4 linked regions of the Homo sapiens genome follow. The protein of the gene in region 4 interacts with the protein of the main gene of each other region in a pairwise test. Each region holds a gene or a part of one and is shown on either strand. Other genes may lie near its edges.

Region 1 (7,553 bases), on a different chromosome or scaffold from region 4:
TTTTTTGGAGACGGAGTCTCACTCTGCCTCCAGGCTGGAGTGCAGTGGCACGATCTCAGCTCACTGTAATCTCCACCTCCCAGGTTCAAGCCTTTCTCCTGCCTCAGCCTCCCGAGTAGCTGGGATTACAGGCATGTGCCACCACGCCCAGCTAATTTTTGTATTTTTAGTAGAGACGGGGTTTCACCATATTGGCCAGGATGGTCTCAATCTCCTGACCTCGGCCTCCCAAAGTGCTAGGATTACAGGCGTGATCCCCCGCACCTGGTCAACTTAGTGTTCTTATGCTTACTATTCTCAGAGAGGAAAATCATGCTCTAATAATAATTTTAGGAAACACTTGATTTCAGGAGACAAGATTTTGTTGATGCTTTCTCTTCTGTCCTATCCTCCTGGTGTCATGATGGAGATTTTAGCCCTGTTTTATTTTCCTTGTTTAAAAACGTAGCCGTTCTGAGAGGTAGCGTGATCTAACCCGGGTCATCTAAGTCTGCACTAGAATGCAGAGTAGCATATGAGGAGGGGGCTTAACACACAAAGGGGGCTGCTGCAGAAACCATTTAATTTTTCAGAATGACTTAAAGAATTTATATATTTTAAAAATTATAAAAAGCTGTCCGGGCATGGTGGCACACGCCTGTAATCTCAAGCACTTTGGGAGGCCAACACTGCTTAAGTTCAGTTGTTTGAGACCAGCCTGGGCAACATAGTGAGACCCCATCTCTACAAAACACACAAAGATTAGTTGGGCATGGTGGCATGTGCTGGTAGTCCCAGGTACTCGGGAGGTTCAGGTGGGATTGCTTGAGACTGGAGGTTGAGGCTGCAGTGAGCTATGATGGTGCCCCTGCATTCCATCCAGCCTGGGTGACAGAGTGAGACCCTCAAAAAAAAAATTTATAAAAGCTTACTATAGTCAATTGATTGCATTTAAAGCTTTTGTTTTTTTTTTTTTTTTTTTTTTTTGGACTTCAGCTGATTTGTTACGTCTGTCTTGTTTTAAAAGGAATGCAGTCTGCCTGGAGCCTCACCTTTCATTACAACAGAACTTTGTAACCAATAGTGTTTCAAAACCTTCTATCTGGAAGACTTTATCAGGGCTTTGGCCTTGAAAGGAATGTCTTCCTACTAATGTTTGTTAAACAAGTGGTGTGTGAAGGAGTGTAATCTTTCTGGGTTTATTGGCAAAGGAGAACACTCCCTCTGTGTGTTCCTGGTCTTCAGTGCATTGAAACTTCTTTTCACAGGGGTTGTATTTGTGTATATTTCATATATACATATAAATCCTTTTACAGGGAATGAAAAAGACTCGAGTAGATGCAAAAAAAATTGGTCCTCTTAAACTGGCTGCCCTAAATGGACTCTCCCTATCTCGAGTGCCTCTGCCTGATGAAGGAAAGGAAGTGGCTACCAGAGCAACGAATGATGAAAGGGTATGTATGGGACACACAGGGCTTTGTGCCTTCTCTGGAACAACCGGTAAATACTACGCAAATGCCTTCATGAGATTTTGGTGAATTTTCTAACACAATTTAATAATAAATGAGTGTTAAGGAATTTTGTAATATGGGCCTCAAAATTGGGGCAAATGTATAGCTAATGTCTTAATAGATAATTTCAGGTTCGAATGCTGATTTTTTGTTTGTTTGTTTCTCAGTGTTCTTTTTTACCTTCTCCTGGCCTTTTGGAGCAGTCTTGATTTTGATGGCCTTAAAGTGAGAAGAAATCTACAAAAATACAGGAGCATACAGGGGAAAAGCAGCAGACATTGACTTTTATTATACTGAAAGTTTATCTCGAGAGTAGTTTCTCAATTTTTCAAAACTTCCTTTGTGCCTGAGGTGTATTTTCTATGAGGTTTTATTACATCAAAATCAGATAGGCATACATTTGCTTTACAACGGGATCCTGGAGGTAGTTTCGAATATTTCCTACTGCTTTAGTCTTTTATATATCGTATGACATAAAATGGAAACATTTGTTCATAGCTGTTGGAACTCATTATCCGTCCCCTAGATTTACTTACTGTTCCCCAGGAGAATTCCATCTATTAGGGGTCACAAAATTGACCACAGATCTAGAGAAAATGAATTCAACAAATTTCTTTAGGCCAATTTTCAACTTTAAACAAAAGTTTGCATTATATTTCTCACCAAAATGATTGTCTTTTGTTCTTTTAACTCTTGTTGTTGTGGCTTTTTAAAATTTTAACTTCATTTTCACCTAGAATTTTGTTTCTGTTTTGGTTTTGGTTTGGTTTTTTTGAGATAGGTTCTCATGGTTCACTGCAGCCTCAACCTCCTGGGCTCAAGCAATCCTCCTGCCTCATCCTCCCAAGTAGATGGGACCACAGGCATGCACCACCACACCTGGCTCGTTTTTTAATTTTTTGCAGAGACGGGGTCTCACTGTGTTTCTCAGGCTGGTCCTGAACTCCTAGGCTCAAGTGATCCTCCCTCCTTGGCCTCCCAAAGTGCAGGGATTACAGGCATGAGACACCGTGCCCAACCTAGAATTTTCAATATTATACAGTGCTAGATTTGAAGCAGAAAACAAGATTTCAAATATACAGTCAAAAGGTAGCCACGACGTGTGGCTGTATTCATGTTATTACACATATTCTGTTTTATAGTGTAAAATTCTGGAACAACGATTAGAACAAGGAATGGTATTCACAGAATATGAAAGAATTCTTAAGAAACGGCTAGTTGATGGGGAGTGCTCAACAGCACGACTCCCTGAAAATGCAGAAAGAAATCGATTCCAAGATGTTCTTCCTTATGATGATGTGAGAGTGGAGTTGGTCCCAACTAAAGAAAACAACACTGGTTACATCAACGCATCACATATTAAGGTGAGAGGAACGCCTCAAGTAATCAACAGCACATGCAGTTTCAGTTAAGTTACAAGAATGGTAAGAATTGTATTCATGTCTGTTTAGAATTCAGATATTTTAAAATTTATTTTTATTGTATTGTTTTAGATAAACACCCTAGTTTTAAACATTTGTGACAAACTGTACTGCAAGCTGGGAAATCCACATACCAGTGCTAGATAAAAAGCGTCTATCAGACAGAGCCAAAGTCATGTCTACTCTCCATGTGCGAAACCACTCTGCCCCCAACACTGTTACCAGGACTCAGGGCGCACTTATTTGCCCGGCTTTTTTTTTTTTCTTTTGCCTTTTTTGAGATAGAGTCTTGCTCTGTCGCCCAGACAGGTGGAGTGCAGTGGTATGATCATGGCTCCCTACAGCCTTGACCTTGTGTTGCCTGGCTTTAGAACTTTGTCCTTCTAAATCTGAAGACCTCTTTTTAGCTCATAAATTCTGGGAGCCACTGAATTGCTAGTTTTTCCTCATCACATACTGACATGCATTTTTATGTAACAAAAGTGTCTGGGCTTTTTGATGGTGTTCACAAAAGCTTTCAACTTACCAAGGTGCCATCTGTTCTCTTTACATACTCTTTATAATAATTTTTAAGTATCATTTTTTTTCTTTGAAGAAGTGCTTTTTTCCTGGAACCAGTATAATGCCATTAAACTGGGGTAATGTTTATGGTGAGAGATAGGGGGTCCAGTTTTACTTTTCTGCTTATGGATATCCAGTCTTCCCAGTCCCATGTATTTAAGAGGCTGTCCTTCCCTAGTGTATGTTCTTGGCACCTTATCTGGGGTAATATCACTCCTATGAAAATGGACAAAATGATGATTCACAACACATGATGGAATAAAGCCAGATGTTCCCTCTTCCTCATTGTACCCTTTGTTCATGCTGGCCACATTCAATTCTTTATTTTGGGAAGGAGAAATCTCATGGTGAGTGAATGAGTAACTGTGGACAGGTGGTGGTTTTTTTCTTTAGTTTGCAAGTATTATTTGAGAAGGGAACAAGCTGACACCAAGGCTTTCTGGAGACTGGCAGTCTGCCTGTGAATGCCAGTACCCCTTGATGGCTTTTGGGAATCTATGCACATACTATTTTGTTTTTAAATATAATATCAGCATAATTTACTTAAAAACCGAGCATTTCCTTGAAATAACTCATCCAGTCTCTCATGACTAGATGGATAAGAATGAATGATACTGTAGTTCTGTAGTGATATTTCAAAATCTTCAGCAGCCACTTGCAGAATAGAGGAAAGAATTTGATAGACCTGGGTCTGACGCCTAGATCTAAAATGAGGTGGGACCTCACTTTATAAGCTGTGTTGTGGGACCTCATCTCACTTACATGGAAATAAATAAATGATGACACCTACCCTGCCAGCTTCTCACTAGTCCCCTCCTCCTCCCTAGTGTTTATTCACTGTTATAACCTGGTACTCATCCACAGTGGCAGCCACTGGGTGCTCAGTGAGACGATGTGGAGCGGTGACTAGGGGGCTGGCAGCCCTGAGTGAGAGTGCGTGTGGCACAAGGCTTGGCACTGGGTTTTACGTTTAGTGAGTGTTTGGAGACAGTTATTGTCGTCACTCAATATTGGTGAAGCCAAGATTTAACCCAGGTCTCTTAACCACAAATCTAGTAATTACTGTTGTATTAGACTGCTCTCAAGGAAGTTAAATCTGAAGTGGAAACTTAATATTATTGTGGAGAGTGACCTTGACTCAGAAGTTCAGAGGTGAGACTATCTTAAGTAGGAAGGTTTTTTTTAAAGAAGAGGCACCATGTCTGCAATAACAGCTACTTATTGAGTTATGTGCCAGGTACCATAGATACTGACTCAGTCCTCACAATGACCCTATGACGGTAGGCAGTATCTTTATTGTATAAATGAGAACTGACATTCAGCAAGGTTAAACAGGTTGCATAGATATTATGTATATTCACAGTACCTAAGTTTATAAAAATGTCAGTAATGCAAATTGTATTCACAAGGGAAAAGATGAAAAGTCTTTCCTTATTCTGCTGAATAATCCAGTTTACTACTTTTTTACTTTTTACTTTTTTAAAAAAACTTTTTTAGTACTACCATGAATGCATGCATACATACCTATGTATATTATACCCACACATCAATTTTTTTAACCTTTTCTAATCCCAGGTCTCTGTCAGTGGAATCGAATGGGATTATATTGCCACACAGGGACCATTACAGAATACCTGTCAAGATTTTTGGCAGATGGTATGGGAACAGGGAATTGCAATTATAGCAATGGTGACAGCAGAAGAGGTAGGTACTTATTTCTCTTAAGTGATTTTCTCAGCCTCTGAAGAACAGTTAATGTTAATCATCTGGAATCCTGACCTGTGGAGAAAAAGGCAGGGTAGGGTTGTGGTTCTGTTTCAGATGTGCCGTCTATGTGAGAAAGGCATCCATTGCCGGATCTCGAGTCATTTAACCATGCTCATCTTTAACAGGAGGGTGGAAGGGAGAAGAGCTTTAGGTACTGGCCACGACTTGGTTCCAGGCACAACACTGTCACCTATGGAAGGTTTAAGATCACGACCCGGTTCCGCACAGACTCTGGCTGCTATGCCACCACAGGCCTGAAGATGAAGCACCTCCTTACTGGGCAAGAGAGGACCGTCTGGCACCTCCAATACACAGACTGGCCTGAACATGGCTGTCCAGAAGACCTCAAGGGATTTTTATGTGAGTGACTTTAACTTTGTTCCGAGGACAGCTGCCTCTGGAGGTGTTAAACAGAGAGGAACATTTATGTTTCCGAAATATTTCCTTTATGTTATCTCATATAAGCTTCGGACTTGTTTTAACATAAAGAATACAAGTGTTTTGGGGAGGGTTAACGAGGTTTATAAATTATGATTTGGTAGTGAGTAGAATGCCACAGCTGACTCAGTATCTCCGTCATTTCATTTTGTAGATCAGAAAGTGGACAGAGGTAGTGACTTGCTCAGGGTCACACTGTCCCTTTGTGGTTGGGTTTGGTTCACTGGCACCCAGTGCTCTTTATCTGCAGTCCTCTTAATCAGTGGAGAGAATATGAAGATTGAGTCAACAATGTGATACGCCTTGATCCTTGAGTACTTTTCTATTTCATTGATTTTCCACAGCATATCTTGAAGAGATCCAGTCTGTTCGACGCCATACAAATAGCACAAGTGATCCCCAAAGCCCCAACCCTCCGTTGTTGGTCCACTGCAGTGCTGGGGTAGGAAGGACTGGCGTGGTGATTTTGTCGGAGATCATGATCGCCTGCCTGGAACACAATGAGGTGATGGCGCTTATGATCACCTGGCCTTTTTGGGTGGAAATGAGGCTGGGGAAGAGAGGGACATAGTGACTTAATAGCTCTTTTTGCGCACATTTCCTTGGACTGTGGTGGCCTCAAGATGTTACTAATGTTCCCTGCAAAAGGCTGTGTCTTCTTGGAGAGTCTCAGTACCAATTAGCATATTAAAGACTAAGAAGTCATACGATAAATAAAGCTGTTTAATTTTGTTTTACTTGCCCAGGGTTTTTCAAATTTGAGCTCAGAATTCTTTTTCTGTTTACATTTCAAGGATGATTCATGCTGCCCAGAGCCCTTGAGGGAAATAGCTAGATACTGATAGCACTTAGCACACTATGTTTTTGTATAATTTTGGTATTTAGTGAGACATGGTAATTATGTCCAACCATACAAAGTCAGTGAGCTACACCTGGGGAATGTTGAAGAAATAGTCTGCATGGACATTCTATTTATAGCTAAAACTAATCAGAAAATCAGAAGTAGGCAATCATGGCTTATTTCTAGAAGACGCTAAGGTGGAAAAGAGACTGTCCATCTCCCAACCAGGTTTCTGCCAGGACACTCGTGTCCTCCCATCCTTTCTGTCTCCCCAGGGGAACACATTATCTTCATTACCGTTTCTCTCAACCTAGGTGCTGGACATCCCGAGAGTGCTGGACATGCTGAGGCAACAGAGAATGATGCTGGTGCAGACTCTCTGCCAGTACACATTTGTGTACAGAGTCCTCATCCAGTTCCTGAAAAGCTCCAGGCTCATCTAAGCTCCCACAATTTCTTACGGGGCCAGTCATGTGAAGCGTTTACAGCTTAAAAAAAAAGCGCTTGCCTAACTCATACTTTCCCGTTGACACTTGATCCACGCAGCGTGGCACTGGGACGTAAGTGGCGCAGTCTGAATGGCGGCACGCTGAAGGAAACGTGCGAAGCACAGGCTGAAGAGGGGTTTCTAACCTGGGAAAGGTGCTCAAGGAGGACTTGGTTTCAAGGGCCTTGCCCTGCCCCGGTCTGTCCGGTTTGCAGTACTTGCACACATTTTGGAGATTGTATTTTCTAGACAATTCTCTATTTTACTGAAGCTATGCTGGGCAATTCTGGCAATCATTAAAGTGCATAGATTTCTATCTTAAACTAATTTTTGATAATGGAGTTTTTATTTTATGACAAATATTTAGGGATTTTTCTAGTGAGAAACAACTTTGTGTAAGGATGATCCACAGATATGAGTTGCTCCTATATAACTTTGTATTTAAAAATCATGTTATTATCTTTTGTTATTTTTTAAAAACCTTGGGTACTTAATAATGGTTTAGTTGCCAAACTGAAAACTATACTGAGAATCTGTGTTATTTTGAA
Region 2 (7,553 bases), on a different chromosome or scaffold from region 4:
ACAGATGAACACCATCACCTTCTCTTTAACTGCCTTTCCTCCTGCTTAAACACCATGATGACAACTTTCCCTTCCAGCTGCACGCTCATTCTGAGCTTGTAAAGTACCAGAATTTACATGCTGTCTCAGGTGCAGTCAGCTAAGCAAATGTTAACAGTCCCATTTTCAGATGAAAGATTGAGAATCAGGTGACTTTTCCTGAGTCACAGGTCCAGGGCCAAATCAACTAGATTTCTAAAACTTCATAGGTAGAAAGTTGAAAATGTGAATGAAAGGCTAGCCAGAAAATCCCACTGATAGTACAGACAGTAACAGCAACAGCCAGCATCTACAGCATGCTGCCGGTGTGTTGCAGCCTTTGTCAGTCTGGGTTCCTCAAGACAAGCCCTCCTTCATCTACTGTATGTAACACATTTTCTTCTATCTACCATCTTTAGGAGAATTGAGAAAAGTGTTACTCAAATAATTTTCTGTATTCAGCTCCATTGGAAAGGTAAAATAATAGTAATAATTTTCTGTGTTTCGGATATGGAGCCTTGGTTGAGAAAGGCTGTCATGTCTATCTTTATACACATATTACCTCCGTTTTTCATCAGCTTTAGGAGGTAGGTATTATCCCCATTTTTACATTTGAGGAAACTAAGGCACAGGGTATCTCATTAACTTGCCTAACGGCATGCAGATTTCAAGTTATGGAGCCAGGGCTCCTACCCCAGGCAGGCTGAGTTTCCGGAGTCACCTTCACCACACTGCAGGTAATGCGCATCAAGGCTGGCTGGAGAACTTGTATATCAAGCACTTTTACAGAACTATATCCGTAACTCAGTTCAGCACAGTGTGTATACTGCATATACACAGCATAGCTTAGTTCAAGAATACAATATGGCCTCATTCTCTAGATCTCAGAAGAGTAAATAAAAAATACCAGAGGTGATTAACATTCAGAGCCATCACTGCCCCAGAATCACAGATATGGGCTGTTAGCAGAGAGACTGGGACTGCTAGGCATGGTTGGGGAAATATGGGACCACAGAGGAAAAGTTGAGCTCCAGTTCACAACTTAGTGTTACTGTAACACAACTCAAGACGCCAACATTCTAAACTTAACCTCGAAGAGATTCAAGAAGGTTAAACAAGATAACCTCTCATATTTATTCAAATTCTGGAGTTCTGTGAAATATCTGAATATTCTATGGGAAGGAAGTATCCAAATATCAAGGCCTGCCTTTTGACCACCTCTGACTTCCTGAATACAAAGTAATGGTTTATCAAAGACGACTGATTCAAAGCTGGTCATTTAGATATAAATTACACCAAAGATTTATGAATGGCTTACAACTCTTGTCAGTCCAGACATGTAGCTCCTGTGCGAGTTCAGGAATCACCAAAAAAGTTCGCCACCCTTGCCGTTTCTTTGATTTTAAAATGTCCCCAAAAATGTGATCTCCAATATACAAAATGTCTTTTCCCTTGGCTCCCAACAGGTCACAGATCGTATCAGAAGAACCTGAACCAACAGAGTGAACAATGAGAAAACTGTCCCTATATTAAAATCAGCATTCCAATAGTATTTAACCATTAAATACTATGATTCATTTTATTCTTATATGAGGAACAGACTAGGAAGAATAGACAAAGACTCACCATTCTCTTTTTACTGCCTTCTAAGACAAGGCCTTCAGCTCCACTGTGCTGACCAGAGCTCTTGCTCACCAAATCCAAGAGCAACAAAACTACATCCTCAGCTTAGTGAAAATAACCTTCAAAACAGCCACTGCCAATTTCATCACAAATCTGCCATTAAGCTGGCTTTACTCAACTGTTTATAACTCCAACATACTATGTACCTATACCCATGGAACTCCTTGAGAAACCCTTGAGAACATATTGAGAAGTACCCCCAAGTGATTCGAAGCACTGAGAAAAAGCCTCCAATAGGATTTAAAAAAAAAACTGATCATTTTAGTGAAAATCAGATTCATTAGGATATACTAACAACTGCTCAAACCCAGACTCCTATTGCATTAAGAGGTGACTAAACTATTTACCTTCAGTAGATGACATCTTAGACTACTAAACAGTATATGTGGCACTTTGCTGAGAGATTACCAAAGCTTTCACTGTGAGGTCTGAGCAAAGACATTAAATAAAGGGAAGTCTGTGACTTACCTCCTGAGTAGACGATACCATGCTGTAGGGGCCCTGTGTAGGTACCAATTTTCAGCTTGCCAGTTTTCTGTATGAAGAATATGGATTTTGTAATACTTTATCATCCTATCACAATCCTCCCCTCACCCCACAACCCTCCCATCCCACCCCCCACCACCAGTGCTACTTGGCCAGACAGCCAAATGAATGGCACTTACTCTTTTCAATTAGTGGGTTTGTTTGACTGTTTCAGTTAAGACCAAAACTCTTAATTTCAAAAGAGAGATACGGCTAATTAAAAAAAAAAAATTCCTGTTTCCTTATGTAGAGTAAGAGTGGGGGAAGGAGAAACATTAAGGACAATGTGCTAGCAAGACAGATCATTCTCATGACTTACAGTATCCACCTGACGCAGTACTGTGCCTTCTCCAAAAAAGAGTGGTTTCCGTGCATCCACCAAGATCAAGTCAAAGTAGGACTGCCATGGTCGATGGGAGCTCCCAGGCTGGTGAAGGAGAAACAGCAAAAGTTGAAACATCACTCCTTACCTTAAGGCATTACTATTTAATCTCACTCAGATGCAAGGAATATAAAAATACTAAGTATAGCCAGAAGATCCCACTATTTTATTTTTTAAAAAGGTATTGTGTCAGCCAGGCACAGTGGCTCACACCTGTAATCCCAGTACTTTGGGAGGCCGAGGCGGGCAGATCACAAGGTCCGGAAATCAAGACCATCCTGGCCAACATGGTGAAAACCTGTCTCTACTAAAACTACAAAAATTAGCCGGGCGTGGTGGCGGGCGCCTGTAGTCCCAGCTACTTGGGAGGCTGAGGCTCGAGAATCGCTTGAACCTAGGAGGGGGAGGTTGCAGTGAGCCGAGATCGTGCCACTGCACTCCAGCTTGGCAACAGAGCAAGACTCCATCTCAAAAAAAAAAAAAAAATTGTGTCTATGTATTATAAGCCATATCCTTTGGGAAGCAGACAAGATATAAATAATAAATAACTGTAATAACACATTCTATACATTAAATCATTTCATCTACTACTAAATTACAATACTTATTTTACAGCACTTTATGAAAGTGTGCTCACCTGAAATTTGCTAAAAGGAGCTCAAAAGAGCTAGGGAGAGATGCAAATCAATACCCAAGGGACAGATTAAGACAGAGGCAGGCATCAGAGCTAAAGTATACAAACTAACATGGAACTATTAGGAAATTTTACTGGTTACATTCTCAGAATGATGGCTCTAGGTACACACTGGCTTTTGGCTCACAGTGTAAGCTAATCACAATACTGAGTTATGCCCATTAAAATCATGACTATCCTGAAATGGAACCCTGGCATTAACCTTTTAAGACCAACCTGAAGGGCACTGCACACTGTGATTTCAGGTGTTCTCAAAACAGGGATTTGCTGATGTTTATTCACTAAAGTCTAGGACTAAAATTCTGTAAGTATGTGACTAAGTTGCAAGGAGTATTCCTTAAACCTAAGTGCAGCCGTACTGCAGAAATGAAGACTTCTCTGCTAAATATCAAGGCTGAGTGCTCTCTTGGCAAAAACTTAGCAACAACTAATACAAAATCTAGAAGTTGTCAAGAATACACATACATTTTCTGTTTCTGTTAATCAAATATCATCCACAACCTGAAAATTCCTTTCATTGCCACACAAACTTAATTTTGCATAGAACTTCTTGGGCATAAAATTATTCTGATCCCATCCTACTAAATATCACATGAATATCCCTTTTATTTCTGTCTATTAAGTATTCAAGTTGCGGACTCTAAATTAGCAATTTGATTTTAAATTCTACTAGCTCCTGGATTACTTCTAATGTTAATGAAGATTAGACAATAGGCTTAAAAAGTAGGACTTTTCTGGGTGGGTTCTGACCAATTCTTTCCCCCTTAATATTCCAGAATGATTAAATGCATTCATTGTTATTAAAGCAGTGGTCTATTGAGTCACATACGGTACCTTGGGGCCATGTGGGAAGTCAAACAGGTAAGTCATAATTTTCTGGAAAAAAAAATTTAACATAAGGTCCATATACTACTTTTGCAAAAGGTATATAACCTAAAGAAATTACAAGCTTTTCACAAAACATGTCTTTTTCAACATAGGACTCACCACATTCTTGTTTCCTCTAAATTTTATGAAATCATGGCAGTGGAAGCCAGAAATTAATGCTTTACCATATACCAAAAAGAAAAAAAGGCTTCTGACATTCTCAGGGAGGATACATACTTCCTCTGGAAGATGTTTTTGAACACACATTTGGAGGAAAGGAGCATATGAGGTAGGGGTATAGAGAAAACTAATGACTCACACAGAAATAACCTATCACCTTGGCTTCGCTACTGCCATCCCTAGACCAACTAAGTCAACAAACCAACGGTTTATGTAAGACTGTTTACTACAAATCACCAGGTGTCTAAATCAAGTTTACATGTACAGCGAATTGGGGGAAGTGGAACTTCTTGCCAGTACTATAAATTTTTAAGTGTCTCAGCAAAAGTAAGATGAAGTTAAGGAGTTAGATCAGTTTTTCCACATGCTTTAATCATGGGAAAAAACTGTTTTTAAGAGGTAGTAAATTTTGGGCTGGGCACAGTGACTCACGCCTGTAATCCCAGCACTTTGGGAGGCCAAGGTGGGTGGATCACGAGGTCAGGAGTTCAAGACCAGCCTGTCCAAGATGTTAAAACCTCGTCTCTACTAAAAATACAAAAAAATTAGCCAGGCGCAGTGGCAGGTGCCTGTAATCCCAGCTACTTGGGAGGCTGAGGCAGGAGAATTGCTTGAACCCAGGCGGCAGAGGTTGCAGTGAGCCGAGATCGCACCACTGCACCCCAGCCTGGGCGACAGAGTGAGACTCTGTCTCAAAAAAAAAAAAAAAAAAAAAAAAAAGATATATAAATTTTGACAGCTAAGAGCCAAAACATCTGTGCAGCATCTATTGCTGCAGGTCTTCCAACAGCAGGGAAAGTCATACATACACATCAATAAGGGGTGTGACTGCTCAAGTTTATAGAAATGATGCTCCAAAGAGACACAAAAGCCATTTTAATCTTTACAAATGTTTTAAATAACCCCAAGATTAAAATTTTCAAGTAGCCAATTATAATCAGTGAAAATGGTTAAAATAAATTTCTAGAAAAATTTGAGAACCACTGTTATCCTGTATATTTTTGCCTTTTTACTCTTTGAAAATGAGAAGGCAAGAAACTATTTTCACTTAATAAACTTCTATCTTCCTCATTGTCTTCACAGTTCTTTAGGCCAAAATAATTCCACTGCATAAATAAATATACACATGAAGCACTTACATCTGTATATTTATAGTCACTGTTGGTAGCAAGAAATACTTTCCCTACTTCCTTCATCCGGCTCAGAAGCAAAGGCAGTTTTCCCTGAAATGTAATTGGATAATGAGTGAAACACGAAAACATTTTTATCTTTACACTTTGGAGTTGTCAAATACTGGATTTCTGTCCACAACAGGAATGGGGGAACCTTTTAAGGGTTAGCTGATTTCAGAATTTTGCACTTAAAAGCCCACATTATCACTATAAATGAATAAAGTATTAACATATGTAGTATACACAGTGTATGTAATAGATTTACATGTAAAATTATACACATATTTATAGGGGTTATATGGCTGTTAACAACATATCTCTACCTTCCTCATGATGTCTGCCTCAGGAAAGAGTTTAAATTACCTTGAGATTTCTTGAAGTATGTGAGGTGTGTTAAAGGTCAGCAGAAGCTGATTTAAACATGCTCTACATAGAGATTATTAGATATGGCTTTCAGTGTGTACACTATGGTTTTATAAAACACCTTGCAGAATGAAATGACATGTGCAGATGCTACCTAGAAATACCCACACCCACGTGCGCTTAAATGAGGAAATTCTAACCCCTCATGTGCCTGGAAAGAAAAATATCTTTTCCTTCTCGCATAGCAAATAGATTCCTTCACTCAAATTCTCCCGGACCCTCCCCATTCAGTGTTCTTTCTTGAAATAAGGGAGGTGGGTGAAAATAGGAAGCACAAAAACTGAAAACAAGAAATCTTTACCACAGTACTTTGAGAAAATACTGTATTCTGCTACTTTTACTCTGTAGGAAAAGAAAGAAGTATGTCATCTTGGGGCACTATGTGTGTTTAATTTTTATTCTAAAACAGTTCTAGACTTATAGAAAAGCTGTGAAAATAAAGAGTTCCCATATATTCTTCCTCCAGTTTCCCTTAATATTAACATCTTATATAACCACAGTATAATTATGAAAAGTATGAAATTAACATTGGTACAATACTATTAACCACAGATTTTTTAAAAAATTTTATCAGGTTTGCCACTAATGCCTTTTAAGGTACTTTAAAGCTTTCCTCATTACTCTCTGTTGACAGGTTAAAGGCATTTTAAATAACAGTAACATATATGCACATTTTTGAGATGATCTAGTGCAGTAGTTATGATTTGGGTGTGACTTAGCTTTACTACTTACTAACTGTGTGACCTCTGGCAAGTTATTTAATCCCTCTATTTCTCAGGTTTTTTATCTATAAAACAGAGGCAACAATAATACCTAACTCAAGGTCATACAGAAGATTAAATGGCATAATGCATGTAATCACTTAGCATGGTGATGATGTGCATACAGTAAACCTCTAACTGCTATTATAATTGAAGCTAAGCGAACAAATGCAATACTGAGTCTTCTTGCCTATCAAGAAACAGGAAAAATGAAATACTGAGTCTTCTTGCCTATCAAGAAACAGGAAAAACTCTACTAAGACCTATGCTCTAGCTGAATATTCTTGGTGATTATACCCGACACATACTATGCCAAGACAAATCTCTTCTTTTGTCCATTTCATTATAAATCAGCTTGTTATTAATTTCCCTAATAGGTAAAATGAGCTATTATGCAGATCTATTTTCCCCTATATTACTTACATCTTTGACTACATACTTCTCAAGATTTTCAACTGTCTTTTCCTTAAGGGAGCCCTGGAGGAAGACAAAAAAAAGAATTAAGAAAAGAACAAAATCAGTTTTTAACATGTAGTTTATAAGAAAAATGGTTTTTACTAATCAACCCAAATCCTTTCTTTTTTTGAGACAAGGTCACCCTGTTGCCCATGCTAGAGTGCAGTGGTACAATCTCAGCTCACTGCAGCCTCGACCTCCCCAGGCTCAGGTGATCCTCCCACTTCAGCCTCCCAAGTAGCTAGGACCACAGGTCCACACCAACATGCCTGGCTAATTTTCTGTATTTCTTGTACAGACAGGGTTTTGTCATGTTGCCCAGGCTAGTCTTGAACTCCTGAGCTCAAGCAATCCACCTGCCTTGGCATCACAAAGTGCTGGGATTACAGGCA
Region 3 (7,553 bases), on a different chromosome or scaffold from region 4:
CTTTAGGAGAGGATATGAATGGGAAATGGTCCCAAAGTCCTGAGTGGTTGTTTTCTTCCCACTGACCAAAGCTGGAGAGGGATCCCTCAGGAGGGTGTGTTCCGGATTTCTTGCCTCAGGCCCAAGACTCCAACCATTTTATAATGGAATCTTTATTTTGTGAAAGTAAGTATGTGCATAGCTGGGCAATTGGGTAAAGTACTAATAGGTGGACTTCAGGGATGAATTTTAGGCTTCCTCTCTCTTTCTTGCACTCTCCCTTGCTTTCTCTTTCTCTCTTCCATATTTAGGCCTGTGTGCACACATCCATGCATGTTCATGTTAGCAGATAATGTAGAAGGCTACCAGTATGTTTATCCCAATAGGTATGTTCTCTTTATATGTATCTACATATGTGTTGTGTCTCTGTGTGTGTTTATCTACATGTATTTTTATTTCACCTATATATTTGTGTAGAAGATTGTGGGGAGGAGGGATTTTTTTAAAAAAGACATTCATATCTTCCTTTAGGTATGTTATCTGATTTTGAAAAACATTATGAAAGCCTCAAAAAGCATTTTTACAAAGCAATTTATCAGAAAATTAAAACAAATATACTGAGAATAAGTTGATCACTTAACTGTCAATGAATATCAAATAGTAAACACGTGATTGGAATCAGATCAGTAGGAGACTTTCTAGAGTAATCAAATTTTTGCTGAATTTAGAAAGTCTAAGAGGCCCAATTCTTCCCTACTAAGATTGTGACCACCAATTGGCTGTGTAGGTGCTGGTTAAGGACATGGACGCTTACTGTCTATGATCCCAGTTCCACACTAGCAGCTATGTAACCTTAGACAACTAACATAACCTCTTTTGTACCTCAGTTGCCTCATCTGAAAAAATCATGATATTAGCACCTACTTCATATAGTTGTTGTGAGGATTAAATGAAATTATTCATTTCAAGTGCACAGAATAAAGCCTGGCACATAGTAAGTACTCAATTAATATTATTAGCTGCTATGATGATTACTAATATTATCATTAGATTCAAGGACAATTCCAGTTACCTTTCCTGCAGATCCTGAACCGGCTGGGGGCTCCAGAGAGGAACAGTAGGGAAGAATGTCTGTCCTGAACATCTGTCCCTTCTGCAGCCCCCATTTTCCTCTCCGCCCTGGCGCACCCAGCCTCAGCCCTGCTTCCTGTGGACGTCAGGCAGTGATGCTCTTGCCCTCAGGCCTAGATAAAGGTAGGGTAGGCAAGGCCCAGCCACTGAGCTCACAGAAGGCAGCACCAGGCATCCAGACTGGCGGGGGCACAAGGTATGGTGCCCAGCATACAACACTGCTTTGTACATGGCTATGAAGGAAATGTTTGTGAAATTTAACTGAATTTTTTTAAAAGATTAGGCAATGGACAGTAGATATCTCCAGCTCCAGCTTTACCTGCCCTCTTGTTCTCTCCTCCAAGGTAGCGGGGACTCATCTCTGGAGAAGGAGTTCCTCGGGGCCCCAGTGGGGCCCTCGGTGAGCACCCCCAACAGCCAGCACTCTTCTCCTAGCCGCTCACTCAGTGGTAAGTGTAACCTCCTACCACCTCCTGGCAGTAGGCACCCCCTGTTGCATTTGGCCTTCAATTCACCTTCCACTGGCAACCATTTCCCCATCGTCACCTCCTGCTGGTCTCCTGCTTAGTCTCTAAGAGCAATGAGGAGCCCAGTGTCTAGGGTTTTTCTGGCTTCTGAAAGGAGAGTGAATAGTCAGTCACTGGCAGACTAGGGTGGAATTAAAAGAGGTATGGGTGGGATTAAGGTAAAAGTTTCAAAGAGAAATTATGGAATTAGAGAAGCAGGTAGATAGAAATGGTCATCAGATGGAGTTAGATAGGAAATAGAGAGTAGAAGGACCTCCCCATCTCCCCACAGCTCATTCTCCTACCCAGACAGGGTCCCCATGACTGCCTCTCCCCAGCTGGCCCTAGATCTGTGACATTCTCTAAATGGTTGGAGTAGCCAGGAATGTAGGTCGGAGCTAGAGCCAAAGCCTTCTCCTCAATGGTTCCTCCTTCCTTTACCCCTCCTGCCCTGCCTCAGAGTTTTATGGAGGTGGAGGGGGTAGAGGGATTCAATCTAATGAGGTGGGAGGGAACTGTAAGCATGTCTGTCTTCCAGGTTTGCTCTCTTTGGCCTGTTGTCCCCCTTCAGTCTTCCTAGATCTGTTTTCCCGCCACTGTTAACTTGCTGGCTTCCTGCCCAGGGCCAAGCCAGACATCTTTCTTCATGACAAGAGAGTAGAGAAAAAAGCTCCCCTTAGTCGCCTCCTCTCCTCAGCGACAGAAGACATCCTATGTACCCCCAACTTTTTTCTTTTTGAGATGGAGTCTTGCTCTGTCGCCCAGGCTGGACTGCAGTGGCGTGATCTCAGCTCACTGCAACCTCCGCCTCCCAAGTTCAAGCGATTCTCCTGCCTCAGCCTCCGAAGTAGCTGGGATTACAGGCGTACACCACCATGCCCAGCTAATTTTTGTATTTTTAGTAAAGACAGGGTTTCACCATGTTGGCCAGGCTGGTCTCAAACTCCTGACCTCAAAAGAATCCACCCGCCTTGGCCTCCCAAATTGCTGGGATTACAGGCGTGAGCCACCACACCCGGCCCAACTTTTTTCTCTTGAAGCCTATTTGCCTGGTGGGTGGGAGAAAAGGTTGTCTCAGGTTCCAGTAGGATTCTGATATCAGCAGCAGGGATACTAGGGTGTTAGTTCCATTTAAGGCTTGAATGTCTCAGGGCCTAAAGACACCCTCTTAAACTTTAAGAGTGCCATTCTGGGCCAGGCGCAGTGGCTCACACCTGTAATCCCAGCACTTTGGGAGGCCAAGGCAGGCAGATCACCTGAGGTTGGAAGTTCGAGACCATCCTGACCAACATGGAGAAACCCTGTCTGTTCTAAAAATACCAAATTAGCTGGGTGTGATGGTACATGCCTGTAATCCCAGCTACTCAGGAGGCTGAGGCAGGAGAATCACTTGAATCTGGGAGGTGGAGGTTGCGTCGAGCCAAATTCGTGCCACTGCACTCCAGCCTGGGCAACAAGAGCGAAATTCCATCTCAAAAAAAAAAAAAAAAAAAGAGTGCCATTCTGGCCTGGGAGCAGCTTCCCCCTTTGCCTCTCTCTATTCTAAACACCATCCCACCCCTCAGCCAACTCCATCAAGGTGGAGATGTACAGCGATGAGGAGTCAAGCAGACTGCTGGGGCCAGATGAGCGGCTCCTGGAAAAGGACGACAGCGTGATTGTGGAAGATTCATTGTCTGAGCCCCTGGGCTACTGTGATGGGAGTGGGCCAGAGCCTCACTCCCCTGGGGGCATCCGGCTGCCCAATGGCAAGCTCAAGTGTGACGTCTGCGGCATGGTCTGTATTGGACCCAACGTGCTCATGGTGCACAAGCGCAGTCACACTGGTAAGTAAGCCAGAGGGGCTCTGGGAGGAGCTCCCAGGGTGGGGTTGAGAGGCAGGGGCAGTGCTGGGACAACAGCAGGTATGGGGCTGGAGGAGGTCATGCAGGGAGTGGGTAGCCTCAGAAAGGGAAGGGTCTCACCCAGCACATTTTCCAGCTGACAAAACGAGGCAGGGTGGGGGTGGGTACAGAATTTGAATTCCCCTCAATACCTTTAGTTTCCTGGCACTCTCCTCAACCGCTGTTATAAAGAAAAGGTGATATTTTTCTCAGTATATGAGGGAGGGGAAAGTGTAGACTCAAGAATGAGCCAATGGTCCAATAGGGGTAAGACTCCTGGGTATTCTTTGGGCCCTCCCATCTAATAATTAAAAAACAACAACAACAACAACAACAACAAAACAGAAAACAAAAGCCTTCTCTTCTCAGCTTCCTTGGGCCTTGGGCTCCTAGGGCAGAGTGGGCCCTGTGGGGCTCAGTTTTTGGTAACAGTCTTTTGGCCTCGTGTTCCAGGCCCCTCTCCCTGCCACACACCTCTAATCCACACCTTCCCCAGGGTAAGACCCCAGGGATCCCCAAGGGATCTTCATAAATCAGGGTTTGTGTGCATTGCACTTCTGCCCGTCAGCAATGTGTTCAGAGCACCTTCCCTTGGGCAAGGTAGGGCAGAGGGTGGGTGATAGGTTCAACCTTCAAAGTTCCTCACATGCAGTCCTCTGGGATTTGTTCTTTCACTTGCAGGTGAAAGGCCCTTCCATTGCAACCAGTGTGGTGCCTCCTTCACCCAGAAGGGGAACCTGCTGCGCCACATCAAGCTGCACTCTGGGGAGAAGCCCTTTAAATGTCCCTTCTGCAACTATGCCTGCCGCCGGCGTGATGCACTCACTGGTCACCTCCGCACACACTCAGGTCAGTGTCTGTCCAGTGGGAGGAGGGAATGAGGCTCCAACACACCCAGTATGTAGAGCTCAGTGACTTCTCTTGTATTTGGGGAGTTCCAGTGTCTGTCATTGAGGAGGGGGGAGCATTTACAGAGCAGATAGGGCCCCCTGCCTCTCTCACCCATCCTCTGGGCAGCAAGGCTTCATGGGAAATTTGGGAGACACCTTGATGGGGTATTTTACATCCACCATATGGATGTAAAATCCATCTACTTGGAGCAAAAGGAATAGGAGCAATGTTCTTGGCTGTTAACGGTCACCCTTGGCCTGGCGCGGTGGCTCACGCCTGTAATCCCAGCACTTTGGGAGGCCAAGATGGGCGGATCACGAGGTCAGGAGATCGAGACCATCCTGGCCAAAATGGTGAAACCCTGTCTCTACTAAAAATACAAAAAAAAAAAAAATTAGCCGGGCATGGTGGCAGGCACCTGTAGTCCCAGCTACTTGGGAGGCTGAGGCTGGAGAATGGCGTGAACCCGGGAGGCGGAGCTTGCAGTGAGCTGAGATCGCGCCATTGCACTCTAGCCTGGGCGACTGAGCGACACTCAGTCTCAAAAAAAAAAAAAAAAAAAAAAAAAAAAAGTCACCCTTCCCTGACTTTTGTTTGTTTTTTGTTTTTTCAAGACGGTGTCTCACACTGTTGCCCAGGCTGGAGTGTAGTGGTGCAATTTTGGCTCCCTGCAGTCTTGATCTCCTGAGCTCAAGCCATCCTCCCACCTCAGCTTCCTGAGTAGCTGGAAGGATACTGCCACACCCAGCTAATTTTTCTATTTTTTTGTAGAGACAGGATCTCCCTATGCTGCCCAGGCTTGTCTTGAACTCTTGATCTCAAGCAATCGGCCCACCTCAGCCTCCTGAAGTACTGGGATTACAGGCGTGGTGTCAGCCACTGTGCCTGGGCTTTCCTGACTTTTATATTTTAGATTGTTGATGCCACAATCCATGCCCTATTACCCCCAACATCTAAGCCCCTGGGAAATCCCTCCTCTCACTCCCATCTGCCTCAGGCCCCACACCTGTCATCATCTTCACCCTCCTTCCTCCCACACCACCAGAGGTCTTGAGCAACCAGTCTGTCCTCTCCTTTACTTCCTTCTGGCTCCTGGAAATATCCATAGCCCTCTCAAATTGCAAAAAAGGGAGCCTAGGACTTCCAAATAGGAAAAGAGTATCCTATTTCTGTTCCCTATCCCAAGAGGTTGTCACCTTCCCAGAGGCAAGAGAAAGTCCAGAGGGTACCTAGAGATCAATGTTTGGAACAGTGCTGGGAAACTGGATTAACAAGGTTTTCTAGCCCAGTCAAGACTGTTTGAATCAGTATCTGTCTGAATCAGCTGGACAGATAGCACTTTTTAGGCATTTTACTAAGCTTTAGGCTTTTGGCTTGGACTTGGGAAGAGGCCAGGAGCTGAGCTGGCAGGAAGGAGGGAGCTCAAGATTGGGAAAAGGCAGGAAGAAAGGAAGGGGGAAAGAATTAGTAGGGTCTGTCCTTGGAAACTTTCCTGGCTATTTTTCTCTTCTTAAACTCTCCTGAGCCAGGATTTAAAGGGACAGAGCAATCATTTCATCACCCTCTACTTTCTCCATCCACTTACCTTGTTCCAGGTTCTCCCACCTTGTAATTGGGACCTCTTTATCTCTATGTATGTGGAGAAACAGGGAGAAAGATCATCGTTGATACATGCTTTATATCTACAGAGCATTTCACTTGTGTTTCTCCATGTGATCCTCATAACAATTCCAAGGTAGATGTGATTATCCCCATTTTGTTGACAAGGAAAATGAAGCTGTTGGGGGGAAAAATGAGTTGCGGGTCACATAGCTATTCTTCAGCCTAGCTGGAACCCCATCAAGGTCCAGTGCCAGAAATACATACTCCTTTTCCTCAGAAAAGGGGCTGCTCCCCCTGCTGGTTTGGAACAAGGATGGCTTGGCCCCTAGAATTCTTACCAACTACACAGTGAGGTGAACTGGGTAGATTTTGGATGTTGATCTGTAGATTATTAACAACAGAAGCAGACACAGATATACTGTCAGGTCCCATCTCTGTGAAGTGCTTTCTGTTGCAACCCCTATTATAAGAAAAAAGAGACTGGATGCATGTTCTCACTCATGTGGGAGCTAAAAAAGTTGATCTCATAGAAGCACGGAGTAGGTTGGGTGCAGTGGCTCACGTCTATCATCCCAGCAGTTTGGGAAGCCAAGGCGGGTGGATCGCTTGAGCCCAGGAGTTTGAGACCAGCCAGAGCAACATAGTGAGACTTCGTCTCTACTACAAAAACAAAAACAAAAACAAAAACAAAAACTAGGTGTGGTGGCACACACCTGTAGTCCCAGCTACTCAGGAGGCTGAGACAGGGAGGATCACTTGAACCTGGGAGGTCAAGACTTCAGTGTCCTGTGATCATGTCATTGCACTCCAGTCTGGGTGACAGAGTGAGACCCCATCTTGGGGAAAAAAAAAAAAAAGCCAGGCACGGTGGCTCACGCCTGTAATCCCAGCACTTTGGGAGGCCAAGGCGGGCAGATCACCTGAGGTCAGGAGTTCAAGACCAGCCTGACCAACATGGAGAAACCCTGTTTCTACTAAAAATACAAAATTAGCCAGGCGTGGTGGCGCATGCCTGTAATCCCTGCTACTCGGGAGGCTGAGACAGGAGAATTCCTTGAGCCCAGGAGGCAGAGGTTGCAGTAAGCCAAGATCGCGCCATTGCACTCCAGCCTGGGCAACAAGGGTGAAACTCCGTCTCAAAAAAAAAAAAAAAGTAGAGAGTAGAACAGTGGTTACCAGAGGCTGACTGAGAAGGGTTGGGAGTAGGTGGATAGCGAGAGGCTGGTTAATGGGTACAAGATTACAGTTAGATGGGAGGCATAAGTTGTAGTGTTCCACAGCATAGTAGAATGACTGTAGTTAACAATAATTTATTGTATATTTCAAAATCGCTAGAAGAGATTATTTTGAATGTTCCCAATACAAAGAAATGATAAATGTTTGCTGGGCATGGTGGCTCACGCCTGTCATCCTAGCCTTTGGGAGGCTGAGGCAGACAGATCATGAGGTCAGGAGATTGAGACCATCCTGGCTAACATGGTGAAACCCGTCTCTACTAAAAATACAAAAAATTAGCTGGGCATGGTGGTGGGCGCCTGTAGTCCCAGCTACTGGGAGGCTG
Region 4 (7,146 bases):
TGAGTGTCAGGTGCAACGGGAGGAGCCAGTGGCTTGTTCAGATTTGGGGCTGGAGGAGGCTGGCTTGAGGGGAAGGATCTCCAGCTGTTGTCAGAGGAAGCGACGCCCTCATTGGCCTGCCGCCCTCCCCCTCCTCCAGTGCTTGCAGCCACACTCAGAAGCCGCCCAGCTGGCAGCGGGAGGGCCCTTTCCTCTTTCAGGGTGAAAAAAAAGGAAAGGACATTTTTGGTAGAAAAGTTCCCTGCTGCTCCCTGGGAATCCCCGGTGGCCGGATGGACTACGGGATATCCCAGAGGAAGCCGAAAGCCACCCCCGACCCCCCTCCACCCTGCCCCCAGCACAATGCTGCGAGGCTCTCCCACGTTGCACCAGCTGGCCAAGGGGGCTCCCAGAGGTCATCTCGTCCAAGCCCCTGTCTGCTGGTGGGCCTGCAGGGAGCCTCTGCGACCTCTCTCGTGACCAACAGCAAGTCTGAGGGGCACCTGTTTAGAGCCCAGGCCCAGCTCTGCAATGAAAGCAGAAAAGAGACAAAGCAAGATGGGAGGACTGTGGGGGCTTAGCAAGGGGGACTAACATAGCCTGGAAAGAGGGCGGGGCACTGGACCTAGGGGCTGAGGACTTAGATTCCAGGCAGAGGATGCAGAGGTTGAGCAAAGGCTGAGAGGTGACAGGGAAATGATGAATTGGGAAGTCAGAGCCCAGATGATAAGGCCTTGACCGCCAGCTCCCCTATGCCCTTGTCCCTGGCAGGGTATCCTCAGGTCCGAGCCCCTGGACAGCAGCCCCAGGCCCAGCTGGCCATGGCCCTGTGCCTGAAGCAGGTGTTCGCCAAGGACAAGACGTTCCGGCCGCGGAAGCGCTTTGAGCCGGGCACACAGCGCTTTGAGCTGTACAAGAAGGCACAGGCCTCTCTCAAGTCGGGCCTGGACCTGCGCAGTGTGGTGAGGCTACCACCCGGGGAGAACATCGACGACTGGATCGCCGTGCACGTGGTGGACTTCTTCAACCGCATCAACCTCATCTACGGCACTATGGCGGAGCGCTGCAGTGAGACCAGCTGCCCGGTCATGGCCGGCGGGCCCCGCTACGAGTACCGCTGGCAGGACGAGCGCCAGTACCGGCGGCCCGCCAAGCTCTCTGCGCCGCGCTATATGGCATTGCTCATGGACTGGATCGAAGGCCTCATCAACGACGAAGAGGTCTTTCCCACGCGTGTTGGTGAGTGTCACCTGGCGGGGAGGGAGCCACTGGGAGCCCATTCCACAGATGAGGATTTAGTTTGATATAGACACTCTGCAGGGTTGGGGGTTGATTTTCATCCCCATTTTGTGGAAGAGGAAAGCGAGGTTGAAACAGGTTAAGTGCCTTGCTCAAGGTCAAGCATTTGCTAGGACTTCCTGACTCCCAATTTGGGGCTTTTCTTTCTTTTCTTTTTCTTTCTTTCTTTCTTTTTTTTTTTTTTTCTTTTCTGAGACAGAGTTTCGGTCTTTCACCCAGTGGTGAGATCTCAGCTTACTGCAACCTCTGCCCCCCGGGTTCAAGCGATTCTCCTGCCTCAGCCTTCTGAGTAGCTGGGATTATAGGCACCCACCACCACGCCTGGCTAATTTTTGTATTTTTAGTAGAGACAGGGTTTCACCACATTGGCCAGGCTGATCTCGAACACCTGACCTCAGGTGATCCACCCACCTCAGAGGGCTTTTCTTTTCTAAAGCATAAGTGGTCCCACCAAGGACCACTCTGGCAAGACCACAGATGCTGTGATTCTCAGAACCTTCCAGAACAGTTGCCCCGAGGTGTTCATAGCTGATTTGACCTCCAGCCTCCCGGGGTTCCCTCTGACTCCTGGCCTCAGGAAAAGGAGGGAGTTGGTGGTTGGGTGGGCCCTGGTGGTATCATCACCTCAGATTGGGGCTCTGAGGACAGAATTTTCCCTTGCCAGGCACAGGCTGTGGGGCCTTTTCTTATCTCAGCTGGGCAGCCTGGGCGGGTGAGGGTAGGGAGGGGAGATGAGTGATGTCACCCAGGCACTGCTTACCCACCCGAGGGCAGCAGGAGGGGGTTGTTGGTCCAGGAGCTGAGCAGGCATGACACTGTGTTCATCACACCAGCCGCACCTGTAGCTGGGCCCAGCCCCCACCTGGCCTGGAGCTCATCTCTGCAGAGGCTGTGTGGATCAGCGGTGGGTGGGGCAGGGTGGTCAAGCCCTGAGGGGAGAAGTCTGAATGCTGAAGGAAGCTGGGCACTGAGTCACAATTCAATGCCCACGGCTCCTCCCCAGCCAGTGGCCTGCTGTTTCTTGCACTGTCATGCCCGACAAGGAGCACCTTCATTTTACATAGGAGGAAACTTGAGGCTACTGAGGGAAAGTGCACTGAACTGGGAGGAATTCCGAACTGGGGCTCAGATCTGTGGGAGCCCAGGACCCCAAGTCTACATGGGCAGGATATGTCTGAGGAATCTGGGCTGGGCTGGAGGGGCTCAGAGGGAGGGAAGGCTCGACCCCACCTGGGAATGGTGAGGAAGAGGAGGGGGTCTACAGAGCCGGGTGGGCCAGCTGTGGACCTGAATGTAGATTCATAGTCCCTGCTGGCCATACCTCCCTGGGCCTGTGGGACTCCAGGTATCGATGCCTAAAACCCTGGGTGACTGCCACACAGAGAAGAGGGCATAAGCCACCAAGATCTCTGCCTTGAGCATGGGGGACTATGCAGAAGCGGGGCCTTTTTCATGGGTCCCAATATCTGTGAGGGTCGCTGCAGTGCACTGCAAAGAGGGTCTGAATCCAGTCTCCATTCTGCACTGATTAATACTTATGTGGCCTTGGGCTAGCAGCTTCACCTTTATAAGCACTTCTGTTTTATCATATCTAAAGTGACAATCAGACACATCAGGCGAATTGTTCTAAGGATTAGAGGCAAAAGGTGTGAAGGGCCCAGCACAAGGCCTTGCTCATAAATGGAAGGTTCTTCGTGTTGTTGAATATTTGAAGGAATGAGGGCTGTCTGAACTAACTCTTGCAGAATTCATAATTTCCAGGATTGGGGGTCTGAGGACTTCTGTGTGAATGTTGAAAAGAGGAGGGACATGGGGTGGGGCTAGAGAGGGAGGTCAGGATAAGATCATGAAAGGCCTTGAGCAGCGTCCTGCTGGAAAGTTAGGACTTAATCCTGAAGGCCCAGGGATTTTTTAAATGGACCCAGTTGTTGAACTCTCCTTGGAGTTGTATACAAGAGTGTGATGTGAGCATCTCTGCAATTGCACATATTTCTGGGGAGAGTTTAGGTCGTAACTTTTATCATAGTCTAAAAAGGGTTGGTCAGTGACCCCCACAAGTTTGCAAAGCCCTGCTTTAGGTAATGGGAAAATGTGGAAGATGATGTATATTCCAGCAGGGGAGAGCCACAGTCAGATTTGTGCTTCATTAGAAAGAAAAGTATGGCCAGGCACAGTGGCTCATGCCTGTAATCCCAGCATTTAGGAGGACGAGGCAGGTGGATCACCTGAGGTCAGGAGTTCAAGACCAGCCTGACCAACATGGAGAAACCCTGTCTCTACTAAAAATACAAAATTAGCTGGGCATGATGGCACATGTCTGTAATCCCAGCTACTTGGGAGGCTGAGGCAGGAGAATACCTTGAACCTGGGAGGTGGAGGTTGCAGTGAGCCGAGATCATGCCATTGCACTTGCCTGGGCAAGAGTGAAACTCCGTCTCAAAAAGGAAAGAAAAAAAGAAAGGAAGAAAGAAAGAAAAGTATGGGAGAAAGTCAAACCACTCTCTGTTTTCCAAAGGGAAGTGTACTAAAAAGTGTGCTGGGGAAAAAGCCATCCTGGTTGCCTGTGTGTGGGAGGGAAAAGTTGAGCAGAGCTTTGGCACCAGGATACTGATCCCCTTCTGCCCTCCCCTGCCCTCTAGGAGTTCCCTTCCCTAAGAACTTCCAGCAGGTCTGCACCAAGATCCTGACCCGCCTCTTCCGAGTCTTTGTCCATGTCTACATCCACCACTTCGATAGCATCCTCAGCATGGGGGCAGAGGCGCACGTCAACACCTGCTACAAGCACTTCTACTACTTCATCCGCGAGTTCAGTCTGGTGGACCAGCGGGAGCTGGAGCCACTGGTGAGGCCAAGCCCTACCACCCTCCCCTACCAAGGCTAGCCTCTGAGTTTTCACGTCCAAAAGCTGCCTGCTTTAAGTAACTCCAACGCCCAAGTAGATGAATTAGGGGAAGGCAATTCATTTAACAGTGAATTCTGTACTTCAATAGAGAATTCATTCAAGTGTTGGTTTACAAACCCAGATCTGCAGCCTAAGAGTTGGGGTTGCTGGGGGAAGGCCAGGCTCAGACAGAAGAGCAGCTAGGCCCTATGGTTTGGGAAGGGATTGCCTAGTAGGCTGAGCTCTAATTGACCCCTCCCTACCTTGTGTCTCTACAGAGGGAGATGACAGAGCGGATCTGCCACTGAGCCCAGGTCTGGACTTTTTTGGCCATCAGATGGACGATCTGAACATAGGGTGGCTGGCAGAGGGGACCCCCAGGAGCCTGAAGGAATCTGAAGGCACTGGAATCACTCCACACACCCAAAGCCTCTGGACTTCTGGTTCTCAGGAGTCTGCCTACCTGTCGCCCTGACCGCTTGTGGATGGAGAAGGGGAGAGCATCTAGGCAGGCAAACAGAAGGGAAGTGGAGTTAAACCTCTGGCATGAAGTCTGGGAGTAGGGTAGGCTAGGGGGTTTCTTCTATGACACTTGACCCTTCCATGCTGGTTCCCAAGCCTATTGGAGGAATGTGGGTGTGGCCGAGGTGATGGCAAGAAAGGTGCAAGAAAGTGAGCAGTCTGCCTGTGAGTGAGCACAGATGCCGGGGTGTGTGTGTGTGTGTGTGATTTTCACTGTGGGGTGTGTCTGTGAGAGCTAGCTGCCTTACCCCTCCTTGGCACATAGTAGGCCTTCCATAAATGTTGGATGGATGGATAAATAGATTGGGACCATCAGACCATGGGACCATCAGACCATGACCACTGTAGGAGTGATGACAGCTCAGCGTCCCCACTCAGTGTATCTGACCATGTGTGTAAGTGCACAAAAATGTGGTTGTAGATGTTGCTCTACATTCAAACCTTCCAGGCTACACTCTTCCATCAGCATGAGTCCTGGAGAGCTGGGGGAACGTAGGAAGAGGAGCCTTGCCTTGAGTTCCTAAACCGACCCACTGCAGACACAGGCTCTGATTCTCTTACCCAGAGATGCCCATGAGCTGACATTTTACTCATCCCTCTGCCTCCAAGAAGGCCTGTATTATACGTGTCCTCCTGGGGGTTGGAGATGATCCCTCAAGTACACAAAGGTCCCCTGGCCCTTCATCTGGGAATCATATACTCCACTCTAGCTCCCAGAATCTACAGACCTGGCTCCTCGGATCTGAAGCCCAGCACAAAATAATCTCCCCGTCCAAGGAGCTTGTGGAACTTGAATTGGGAACTTTGGAGTCTTGTCTCCCATCCCAGCACATTGAGGATGTAGTTGGTGAATGGACTCTTCCAGGCATGGAGATCCTCCATCCTAAAAGTACCTGCCTCCTTCCCAGCCATCCCTGACACATTCCAGCCAGTTGGATCTCACAGCACAGCTATCCACAGGGAGACTGGGATGTTCACGCAGCACTCCATTACTCAGTACCTCCATACCCAGCCCTATACGCAGACCCACAGGTGGGGAAACTGAGGCAGGAACAGGGTTCTGCCCTCCCAGAGCCTCCACTCTGGGATGCCAGAATGGAAAGCCAGAGGGAACCTGAGAATCATCCAGTCTTACTGTCTCAATGTACATACGGGGAAACTGAAGCCAGGAGAAGAAGAGGGAGAAACTGTCCAGGGCCTCACAGGGAGGCATTCATGGAGCTGGAGAAACCAGGGATCCTGACCGCAGGGCCCATCAATTGCTACATAGAGATACACATGGAAAGAGGGTTTAACAGACCCTCTCTAGGACACAACTGTTTCTGCTTTGAGCAATAATTTCTAACCTGAGGCCAACATGTCCCACTGCCCCTTGGGTTGGCTGGGGTTGTTTCCTGAGCCAAGCATCCAATATCATGCCCCACTCAATGGCCTAGAAGCTGCCTGTACTTTGGGGAAACAGATGGAGCTCTTGGGCCCAGCCAGCTGGGCCTGGGACTTCTGCCTCTGCCGCCTCCAGAGTGGCCTGGCAGCTTTGCCAGAGGCTGTGGAGCGAGGGTAGTAGGAGCTTTTCCCAGAGTGCTGTGACTTGCATGATGGATTCTAGGCTGTGGCAAGGGCTGATTTCTGGGATAGGGGGAGGGTTGGAAAATTTATTTTTATGAAACAGAGGGAAGACTTTATTGTTGTTATTTTTGGTAAAATAAAAGGCAAACTAAAGCAGCCACTGGTGGGAAGCGGTGATCTGGGTGCCACATGGCTCTTGGCAGACCATGGAAGGAACTGAGCCAGAATGGGGCTGGGAAGGCTTTTTGTCCTGAGATACTGGACCATGTGGAGGGCTGGCTGGTGTGGTCATGTCTGGCCCAGCTCTCTAGGGTGGGGACACAAAGATTCTCCTGGGGCTCTGGAAATTCTAGACCGAGCTAGGCTAGGACGCTTGGGGTGGAGAAGCCTGGCTTTTCTTTGCCTTCCGGGAACTCAGTCTGATAGGAATCGTTCCTTGTTTCATCTCAGGTTGCCTGGCATTGGCTATTCTTTTTTTTCTTTTTCTTTTTTTTTTTTTTTTTGAGATGGAGTCTTGCTCTGTCACCCAGGTTGGAGTGCAGTGGCGCGATCTTGGCTCACTGCAAGCTCCGCCTCCTGGGTTCATGCCATTCTCCTGCCTCAGCCTCCGGAGTAGCTGGGACTACAGGCACCCACCACCACGCCCAGCTAATTTTTTTGTATTTTTAGTAGAAACGGGGTTTCACCGCGTTAGCCAGGATGGTCTCGATCTCCTGACCTCGTGATCTACCCGCCTCGGCCTCCCAAAGTGCTGGGATTACAGGCATGAGCCACCACGCCTGGCCTGGCATTGGCTATTCTCACTCCAGCCCCTTACTCTGGGTGGTTTTTTTTTGAGGTAGTAGATAAAAGGACAGAGTGGAAATACAATCCCAACACTAATTACAGGACAGGAGGCC

The links.
Region 1: the proteins of MOB3C (region 4) and PTPN21 interact in binary tests that used the Homo sapiens proteins (3 or more experiments, as listed by UniProt).
Region 2: the proteins of MOB3C (region 4) and NT5C2 interact in binary tests that used the Homo sapiens proteins (3 or more experiments, as listed by UniProt).
Region 3: the proteins of MOB3C (region 4) and IKZF4 interact in binary tests that used the Homo sapiens proteins (3 or more experiments, as listed by UniProt).

Annotation. Positions count from the first base shown.
Region 1 is NC_000014.9:88,467,545-88,475,097, reverse strand, and holds part of PTPN21 (tyrosine-protein phosphatase non-receptor type 21), read left to right. Parts: intron 1-1,295; coding exon 1,296-1,433; intron 1,434-2,632; coding exon 2,633-2,854; intron 2,855-4,747; exon of another isoform or gene 4,748-5,047; coding exon 5,048-5,176; exon of another isoform or gene 5,177-5,230; coding exon of another isoform or gene 5,231-5,251; intron 5,252-5,364; coding exon 5,365-5,599; intron 5,600-6,021; coding exon 6,022-6,182; intron 6,183-6,832; coding exon 6,833-6,961; 3' UTR 6,962-7,553.
Region 2 is NC_000010.11:103,091,803-103,099,355, forward strand, and holds part of NT5C2 (cytosolic purine 5'-nucleotidase), read right to left. Parts: intron 7,183-7,553; coding exon 7,129-7,182; intron 6,287-7,128; exon of another isoform or gene 6,246-6,286; intron 5,573-6,245; coding exon 5,489-5,572; intron 4,179-5,488; coding exon 4,137-4,178; intron 2,654-4,136; coding exon 2,546-2,653; intron 2,237-2,545; coding exon 2,170-2,236; intron 1,508-2,169; coding exon 1,337-1,507; intron 1-1,336. UniProt on the Homo sapiens protein: Broad specificity cytosolic 5'-nucleotidase that catalyzes the dephosphorylation of 6-hydroxypurine nucleoside 5'-monophosphates.
Region 3 is NC_000012.12:56,023,600-56,031,152, forward strand, and holds part of IKZF4 (zinc finger protein Eos), read left to right. Parts: exon of another isoform or gene 1-71; coding exon 72-165; exon of another isoform or gene 166-1,396; coding exon of another isoform or gene 1,397-1,454; coding exon 1,455-1,559; intron 1,560-3,181; coding exon 3,182-3,442; intron 3,443-4,180; coding exon 4,181-4,348; intron 4,349-7,553. UniProt on the Homo sapiens protein: DNA-binding protein that binds to the 5'GGGAATRCC-3' Ikaros-binding sequence. Transcriptional repressor. Interacts with SPI1 and MITF to repress transcription of the CTSK and ACP5 promoters via recruitment of corepressors SIN3A and CTBP2.
Region 4 is NC_000001.11:46,606,976-46,614,121, reverse strand, and holds the end of MOB3C (MOB kinase activator 3C), read left to right. Parts: intron 1-750; 5' UTR 751-800; coding exon 801-1,218; intron 1,219-3,917; coding exon 3,918-4,120; intron 4,121-4,437; coding exon 4,438-4,467; 3' UTR 4,468-6,403; downstream 6,404-7,146. UniProt on the Homo sapiens protein: May regulate the activity of kinases.